2 linked regions of the Homo sapiens genome follow. The protein of the gene in region 1 purifies or fractionates together with the protein of each later gene. This does not show direct contact. Each region holds a gene or a part of one and is shown on either strand. Other genes may lie near its edges.

Region 1 (3,752 bases):
GAAGGTTTTACTGCTTCAGGTTGTGTTGGCTGGCGTCACCCACATAGCTGCACTCCACTGGGAGCTGAGCTGGGGCTGGGACAGCCAGGATGGCCTCATTCACATGTCTGTCAATTGTGCCTATAGTCACCTGGGCTGTCGCTAGCTTCTTATCCTCCAGGTCCTATCTGTCTCACTACGTGGCCTTTCCAGCAGGATAGTCCAGACTTATTTACATAGTAGCTGGCTCCCAAGAGGGCAAAAATGGAATCTGCAAGGCCTCTTAAGACGTAAGCTTGGAAACCACAGAGCACCACTTCTACTCCATTCAATTGGTCAAAGCAAGTCACAGGGCCAGCTCAGACTGGACTCCACCTCTGAATGGGAGGAATGTCAAAGTCACATTTCCAAAGGACAGGCAGGATGGAAGAGGTTTTTGGGCCATCTCTGGAAACAATCTTCTAGAAGTAAGTCTAAACACACTTCCCCCAATCCTAACATTTTATTATGATTTTTCCCTTCCTCCCACACAAGGGTTGGTTTATTCCTCCCAGGACCTGGTGGAGGCTGAGGGGATCACTCCATTCTGTAGCCCCCTCACCTCCCCAGTCAGAGGCCCTCCTAGCTAAGCCAGTGTTTTCTCCTGCTTCTCCCACCCACCCATGCACACCTCTGAGAGAGGCTGTCTGCTTCCTGGCCTGTACCTTGGGATGGGTGACATTTGTGTCTGCACCCTGAGACTAGTACAGAGCTCTGCATCAAGAGGGACAACACCCTGGAATTCCAGGATGGTAGTTCCGAGGCCCCTCTTCTGCCCTCCCTCTATCCAGCCCCTTCATGGCCTATAACAAATCACCCCAAGCTGGGCAGGTGGGGGCCTAGGAATGCGCGCCCTCTGCTGACCACCAAAGGGCCAGCAAGAATTCGGGTTCAGAGTCCCTGGGAGTCTCTCTGGCCTGGGTCCCCACCCCAGGCCAAGGTCTCGACCTGAGACCACCCGAGCCTGGTCTCAACATGGACTTCAAGGGCCCCTCCTAGGTGGTGTGGAGGAGCTGCCGGGTTGGGCCCTTCACTGAGCTCCCGCTGGGAGCAGGCTTCTGCTAGTGAGAGGAGCCATCCATGCATCACCTCCTGCCCGTCTGCCGGATGGACTGGCCTCGGAGGGAAGGGGACATCGTCAGGATCCCAGGGTCCTAGCTCCTAAAGGAAAGATGGGCAGCTAGCTTTTGGGAGGGGAGCGGCTAGCTTTTCATTTTGTCCTTTGGGGATCACTATCCTGGGGGAAAAAAAAAGTTGTCAGGCCTCTCCTGTCTCCGCGCCCTGCAGCGCCTGCGAAGAACATCATTTTCGCAATCCCCAATCCGCTGCAGCCCACAAACCCAGAGAGCCAGAGAGCCCCCCTCACCACCCAACCGGCTGCTGGCGTGGGTCGGTCGGGGAAGGAGAGCCCAGCTATCCCTCATACCGTACAGCAGTAGCAGCAGCAGCGGCAGCGACACACGGGCGACCGAGAGGGCCAGTGTGACCTCCCCCCGCCCGGCGGGCGGGGAGCCCAGCTCACACGCACAGCCTCCTCGCCGCTGCCCGCCCCCTTCCCTCGCCGGGACTCGCCTCCCTCCTGCAGCCCAGCCCCAGCCACCTCCGCGTCTACGCCGCCGCCTGCTCTGGCCGGGCCGGGTCAGAGCCGGAGCATGGAACCTGGGCAGCCCCGGGAGCCCCAGGAGCCCCGCGAGCCCGGGCCAGGAGCGGAGACCGCTGCGGCCCCGGTCTGGGAGGAAGCCAAGATTTTCTACGACAACCTCGCGCCCAAGAAGAAACCCAAATCGGTAAAAGCAATGCACGGGTATGCGGGGGACGGGGGAAGGGTTACCCCGGAGGAGGGGTCATAAGTCTCTTGGGAAGGGACCCGTGGCGCCCCTCTGGGAGGGGACGCAGCTCCTCAGCCCCAGAATGCGCCCTGCAGCTGGCGCGGGCTCGGGTTTATTTTGGGAGCTCTGCTCTGGTGTATTTTTTTACCGGGACTCGGGTTCCACGCCAGGCTCCCCCTCCCCCATGCTGTCATCAGGGCCCAGCTAGAGGCCCGCAGCCCCAGCCCCTCCCCACTCGGGCCGCCGGGGAGCGCGGATTGCACTTGTTGGCGAAGCTGGTCCGCAGCGCTTCCAGAAGCGCCCCAGGCGCGGGTAACCAGACTTTGGGAACCCGGTTCCTGGCTGTGCGCTCCGGTCTCCGCCATCTGGGCATCGGGCTCCGGACCTGAGACTCTGCGTTTGGGGTCTGGCTCTGGGTCCTGGGCCCTGGGCTGGGGGCAGTGCGCTCCCCGCGTCCTAAGGAAAGGGAGCTGCTCTCTCCAGGCACTGGGATCCACACTCTGCGCTGGGGGGCGATCGGCGCCCCTGGCCGCAGGCTCCCAGCGCTGGACTCTGCCCCCCAGCTCGGGTTCTGCTCCCCTTGCAGTGGGCATTAACATCCCCACGACCCTGTGGTGGTGTCAACCGTCTGGGACCTCACAGAGGAGCTCTCTCCTCTCTGCCATCAAACAAGTTGATGATGCCCTGGTCTGCCCCTGGACCTTGCTGTCTCCAACTTCCCAGATCTCAGAGCTTGAGGAGAAAACCGAGAATAGAGGTTGGCCCACAGCGGTCCTCCAAAGAGCTCCAGCTTGATCTTAAAGCAATTTGCTGCTTCCCTCCAAGAACCCTTCCCCAACAGGTCCACCCTATCAGCAATCATTCAATTAGCACCTCCAAGCTCTGCTCAAGAGTGGGGATTGAAGAATTAAATAACCTGAGTCCCTGCCTCAGGAGCTCACTGCACAATGATGGAGGCTCCAGAGATGAGAGCCTAGGGGAGTTGGGGGGGGAGTAGAGTAGTGACATCACACTGGGGAAAGCTTTGTAGAAGTGGCACGTATCCTGATCTTAAAGCCTGAGTAGGTGGAGTTTCCCAGGGAGAGGGAAACAGGACAGGCAAAAGTCATGCAGATGTCTCTGAAGCTCAGGACTGTGTTCCTGAATAAGTACTGAATGAAGAATGCAGGATTGTTGGAAGAAGAGCTGGAGGGATGTGGAAGAGCCCACAGAGGGCCTTGGGGATCATGTTAAGGAGTCTGGACCTTACTCAAGGGGGTCAGGGATTTCCAAACTAGCTTCCCCAAGCCCCATGTTTCAGGGAGTCTGCACACATGTGAATCCAATTTATTTTCTTTCTTCTTCGGACTATGTTTTAAACAATTAAAAATGTGTAATAAAACCCAACTCACTCTAATGTATTAGGTGGACATTTTAGCAGCTTGAAGGCCACTAGCTTGTGCTGCAGATTTTTTTAAAGCAAAGCTCAGAATAAGGCTTCCCCTGTGATCTGTTCCATCAAAGAGCGTCTTGAGATTGTAAGGCCTTTAGTTTAAAACAAACCAAAACAAAAAACCTTTTAGCATTTCCAACCACTTATTGGTCTGAATCAGGACTTTCTCAATACTGTACAAATACAAACACAGCAACAACTTGGCCGGATGCTGAAGCTTAAGTCTGCACTGGCATTCTAGCCGCTAGTTTCAAATTTGTTGTCATGCAAACAACTGTGTTGTTTTCATTGGTTGACTTTATAATAAATAAATAAATAAATGTAATGCATTTGAATCTGTAAAATAAATAAACACCAATTATATATGTTATATCTGGTACCATATGGTATGAGATATATGGTAATATCTGGCTTACATATTGAATTCAAAGTTTATTTGAATTCATTTAAATAAAAGGTCAACCTACATTTAA
Region 2 (3,652 bases), about 170 Mb from region 1:
ATAGGTTGTCTTTGAAAAATGTTGGTTGAATAAATGGGACACTGGACCAGCCCTAGGACTGTAGTTAAACCCGGGCCCTGAGGGCCACATCTCCCTGATGCTGCATGAGTTGTTGTCTGGAACATATGGTACATACCTCTTGGACTGTCTGTCCAGGGTGAATCCGGAAGTTGACTGTGGCCTGGGCCACTGGGGGGATGACATTGAACTAGAGAGAGAAGCACAAAACCCTGGCTTGAGTCAACCTCAAATCTTCTACATCTGCCTGCCCAGGAAATGCTAATTTCCTCAGCTCAGGCAGAGTTGGCTGATTTGACTTAAGGACCCAAGGCTTAGCTTTTCTAGTCTGCCTCTTGTCTTCTCTGAACTAAGTGACATGTTATATTCAGAGCTGAAGGGGTGTCTCTGCTTTAAGCCAGACCTTCCTGCTTCTTGGTGCTGCAGGGGGTCACAGAGATGTTCAGAGCAAGGCTGCTTTCTCTGATCACCCAGATATCTCTGTTTTGGCCCCATGCTGTGCTATTAGAAGCCTTCTGTGTGCACTTTCTTTCCCAGCACACCCAGGACATTTCTGCAGCTGTTAACATTAGTGCTTACTCACGATGGGGCAGCCAGAGCCTCTGTTGACCCCCATCATGGCATAGCACGGGGCTCACATCAGGTTTGATCCTTGAGGGGGATGAGAAGAACACATACTCCTCACATATTCCTGGTCAGGCAGGAACAAAAGAGTGACAGAAAAGTAACCTTCAGAGTAAGAAAAGGACCCTAGTGCTGGCCAGTGCTCTGCCTGTTCTCACCTATTCCCAGCCAGTGACTGAGCCAAGACAGAGGGATCTGGCTTGTTCTCTAGGGCTGTTAGTATGTTTCTGAGACCCTAAGACCTAACATAACCTTTGGGAGCTGGTTCCCTCTTATCCTTGAGGCTGCTGAGCAATTGTTCTAACCAATCAGATAAGCCAGTCAGGCAGTAATTGCCTCCCCATTCCCGACCTTCTAGCAGGGATTGGTGGTTTCCCAGGTCCAGTTGTAAAATCTGACTTTTTTGCCTGACCAGGAGGAATCCAGGACTAACTGGAGAAAAGAGTTAGGCTATGGAGGGATTGTTCCTTGGAGGCCGGGAGACTCCCCAAGTGCATATCTTTCTTTGAACTCGTATGGTGCAAAAAAGCACTAAGTGGTCAGGGACAGAGCTGGGCTGTTGCAAATTAGCTGTTGCAACCTCTTTGTGCCTCTGTTTTCTCAACTGGGTATTGGGGCAATACTCATAGGACTCTTAGAAGGCTCAGATGGAGTAACAAAGTATCCTGGGGAGATGAAAACACCATTCAAATGTCAGGACACAGTGCTATTATTCTGATGAACACTACAGCTGACACACTGGACGGTCCAGTGAGTTATGCCAGGAATTAATTCAGAGGCATCATTCACTTATATACCCGATTACTAGAGTGCTTCAAGGTCACATTGTACTCTAGGTGAATGGTGCCCCCTGAAGTTGTGCTGGTGGTACTGGCAGTTACAAGAATGGTCTAACTCCCTTCAAGATTTCAGAAAGGCCTATGTCTTTGCGTGGCTAGGCTTGGATCCAGCTGACACACACAGAAGGAAGGAAGAGCCAGTAGATAGATTCAAGGAAGGGAGGAGTGGAGGGCGGTAGGGAAAAGCTATATGGGGAGGAACCAGGGATGTTACCTTGACCCCTGCTTTGAATATGGTGAGTGCCGTGGTGGTCCTGATTATTGCATTGGTTAAGGGATTTCTCTCCATAAACCTAAAACAAAAGGACCAAGGTCAGATGTTAGAAAGAACCAATGGGGTGAAGGAAAGGGCGGAAACATTACCCACTTTCCTGAACCTTGGGGATCTTTAAGACTGAGAGAGACGTCTTAGAGATGTCTTAAATATACACACTTAGAGATGCAGTATCTGGTGGCTGAGGGATGATTAGTCAGGCCCAGTTAAGCCAAGGAGAGGGGCCTGGGGGGTGGGTAGGTTTGAGGTGAGGGATGTGAAAAAAGGAAAGATAATACTTTACCTGCTTATAAGTGGTTCAAATAGCCATGGGTTGCTCAGGATTATATTGACAGGGAAGGGAAACTGGGAAAGAACAAGGTCAGCACCACAGGGTCACCTCTAGTTTAGCCTGGGTCTCTGAGACCTGAGTCTCTCTCTACTTTAGAGCTGCCTCAGGGGCCCTTAGCAGTCAGGAGTGCTGCTAAATTCAGTTAGCTCAATCCCTGCTAGAGGATCAGGAATAGGGAGGCAATTACTGTCTGGCTGGGCTTATCTGGTTGGTTAGAACAATTGCTTAGCAACCTCAAGGATAAGTGGGAACCAGCTCCCAAAGGGTAGATTAGGTCTTAGGGTCTCAGAAACACACTAACAGCCGTAGAGAACAAGCCAGATCCCTGTGTCTTGGCTCAGCCACTGGCTGGGAATAGGTGAGAATAGGCAGAGTGCTGGACAGTACTAGGGTCCTTTTCTTACTCTAAAGGTTACTTTTCTGTCCGTCTTTTGTTCCTAGCTGATTAGGAGTATGTGATACTTCTTCCCATACCTCATTTGCCAGTTGCTGCAATACAGTCACCACTGTCCCGCTTCCAAATATGATAGGCATTGGTGTCTGCTCCAATCTGGAAGAGAAACAGAGTCCTCAAGACTTAGCGAACCCCAGCCAAAGATCAGTGGCTTGAAGAGGAGAAGAAGGGAGATAGGAGGAAGTTTCAACGCTCCTGGCCAAGAGGTCTCTCATTCACCTCCCTCCCACCTCCACCAACTCAACATTCTGAAGATCTCAAAACATCCCCAGGAGCTTTCCCTGTCTACCAAGTCTGCATTAGGGTCCTTCTTTCCTCCCTCTGCTGTTCTCTAGAATCCTGTGTGTCCACTCTCATAGCCCATCCCATACTACAGCAGAATTGTCAGTCTCCTGACAATTTGAATGAATATAGCACTCCTTCCCACTTTGCTAAGAAAACCCAGCCAGGAGTAAGCTCTGCTGTTACAGATTCTGCTGTCCTCATTCATAGCCAGCAACTCTTATTTATTTTTGTCCTCCTGCCAGGACAGGTGGAGAATTTCGACAGCTCTACCAGTCATTGCCAATTTGTGATTCTAAATGTCTGGACTCTGGACTACTCTAGCTGCCTGACCTAGCTTCTGCCTGTAGGTCCTTGCTTTCCATATGGATATACTGACAGATCCTCTTCTGACTCCAGCCCTTGCAGGATACTGGTGGCTCTGTCTCTCCTGTGGCTCCCCCAACCCCCACCTTGGAAGGAATTCTCACTCCATTTGAGATGACCCCAGCCTGGTATCTGTGAGCCATGCTGAGATAACTCTTTATTTACACCTGTTGTATTAATCACCTGGATCTTTAGTCTGTCCTGGGCTTCCCCTTCTGTTCTTCCTCTAGTGTCAATTTTTTATAGCATAGTTTCCCAGCCCAACTTTAGGGCAGGAAGCTTAGCCTCCTCAAATTTAAAGTGGGAAAGTGCCAGGGCTTCCATCTCAAGTCTGGCATGGGAACAGGGCCAGGAGTTGCTTACCGGCTGACAGCAGCTGCAAGGATGCCAATGCTTGTCTCCTTTGGAGGAGCTGAAGAGTGGCCTGAAGTCATGTTTACTTGCAGCATGAGGTTCATGGAACC

Evidence for each region. Proteins that work in one complex are often made in the same cells at the same time.
Region 2: the proteins of NT5C1A (region 1) and PM20D1 purify together in Homo sapiens (affinity purification with mass spectrometry; one large-scale study listed by BioGRID and IntAct). This does not show direct contact.

The regions. Positions count from the first base shown.
Region 1 is NC_000001.11:39,669,957-39,673,708, reverse strand, and holds the start of NT5C1A (cytosolic 5'-nucleotidase 1A), read left to right. Parts: upstream 1-1,601; 5' UTR 1,602-1,670; coding exon 1,671-1,805; intron 1,806-3,752.
Region 2 is NC_000001.11:205,840,116-205,843,767, forward strand, and holds part of PM20D1 (N-fatty-acyl-amino acid synthase/hydrolase PM20D1 precursor), read right to left. Parts: coding exon 3,552-3,652; intron 2,637-3,551; coding exon 2,561-2,636; intron 2,101-2,560; coding exon 2,039-2,100; intron 1,775-2,038; coding exon 1,696-1,774; intron 209-1,695; coding exon 137-208; intron 1-136. UniProt on the Homo sapiens protein: Secreted enzyme that regulates the endogenous N-fatty acyl amino acid (NAAs) tissue and circulating levels by functioning as a bidirectional NAA synthase/hydrolase.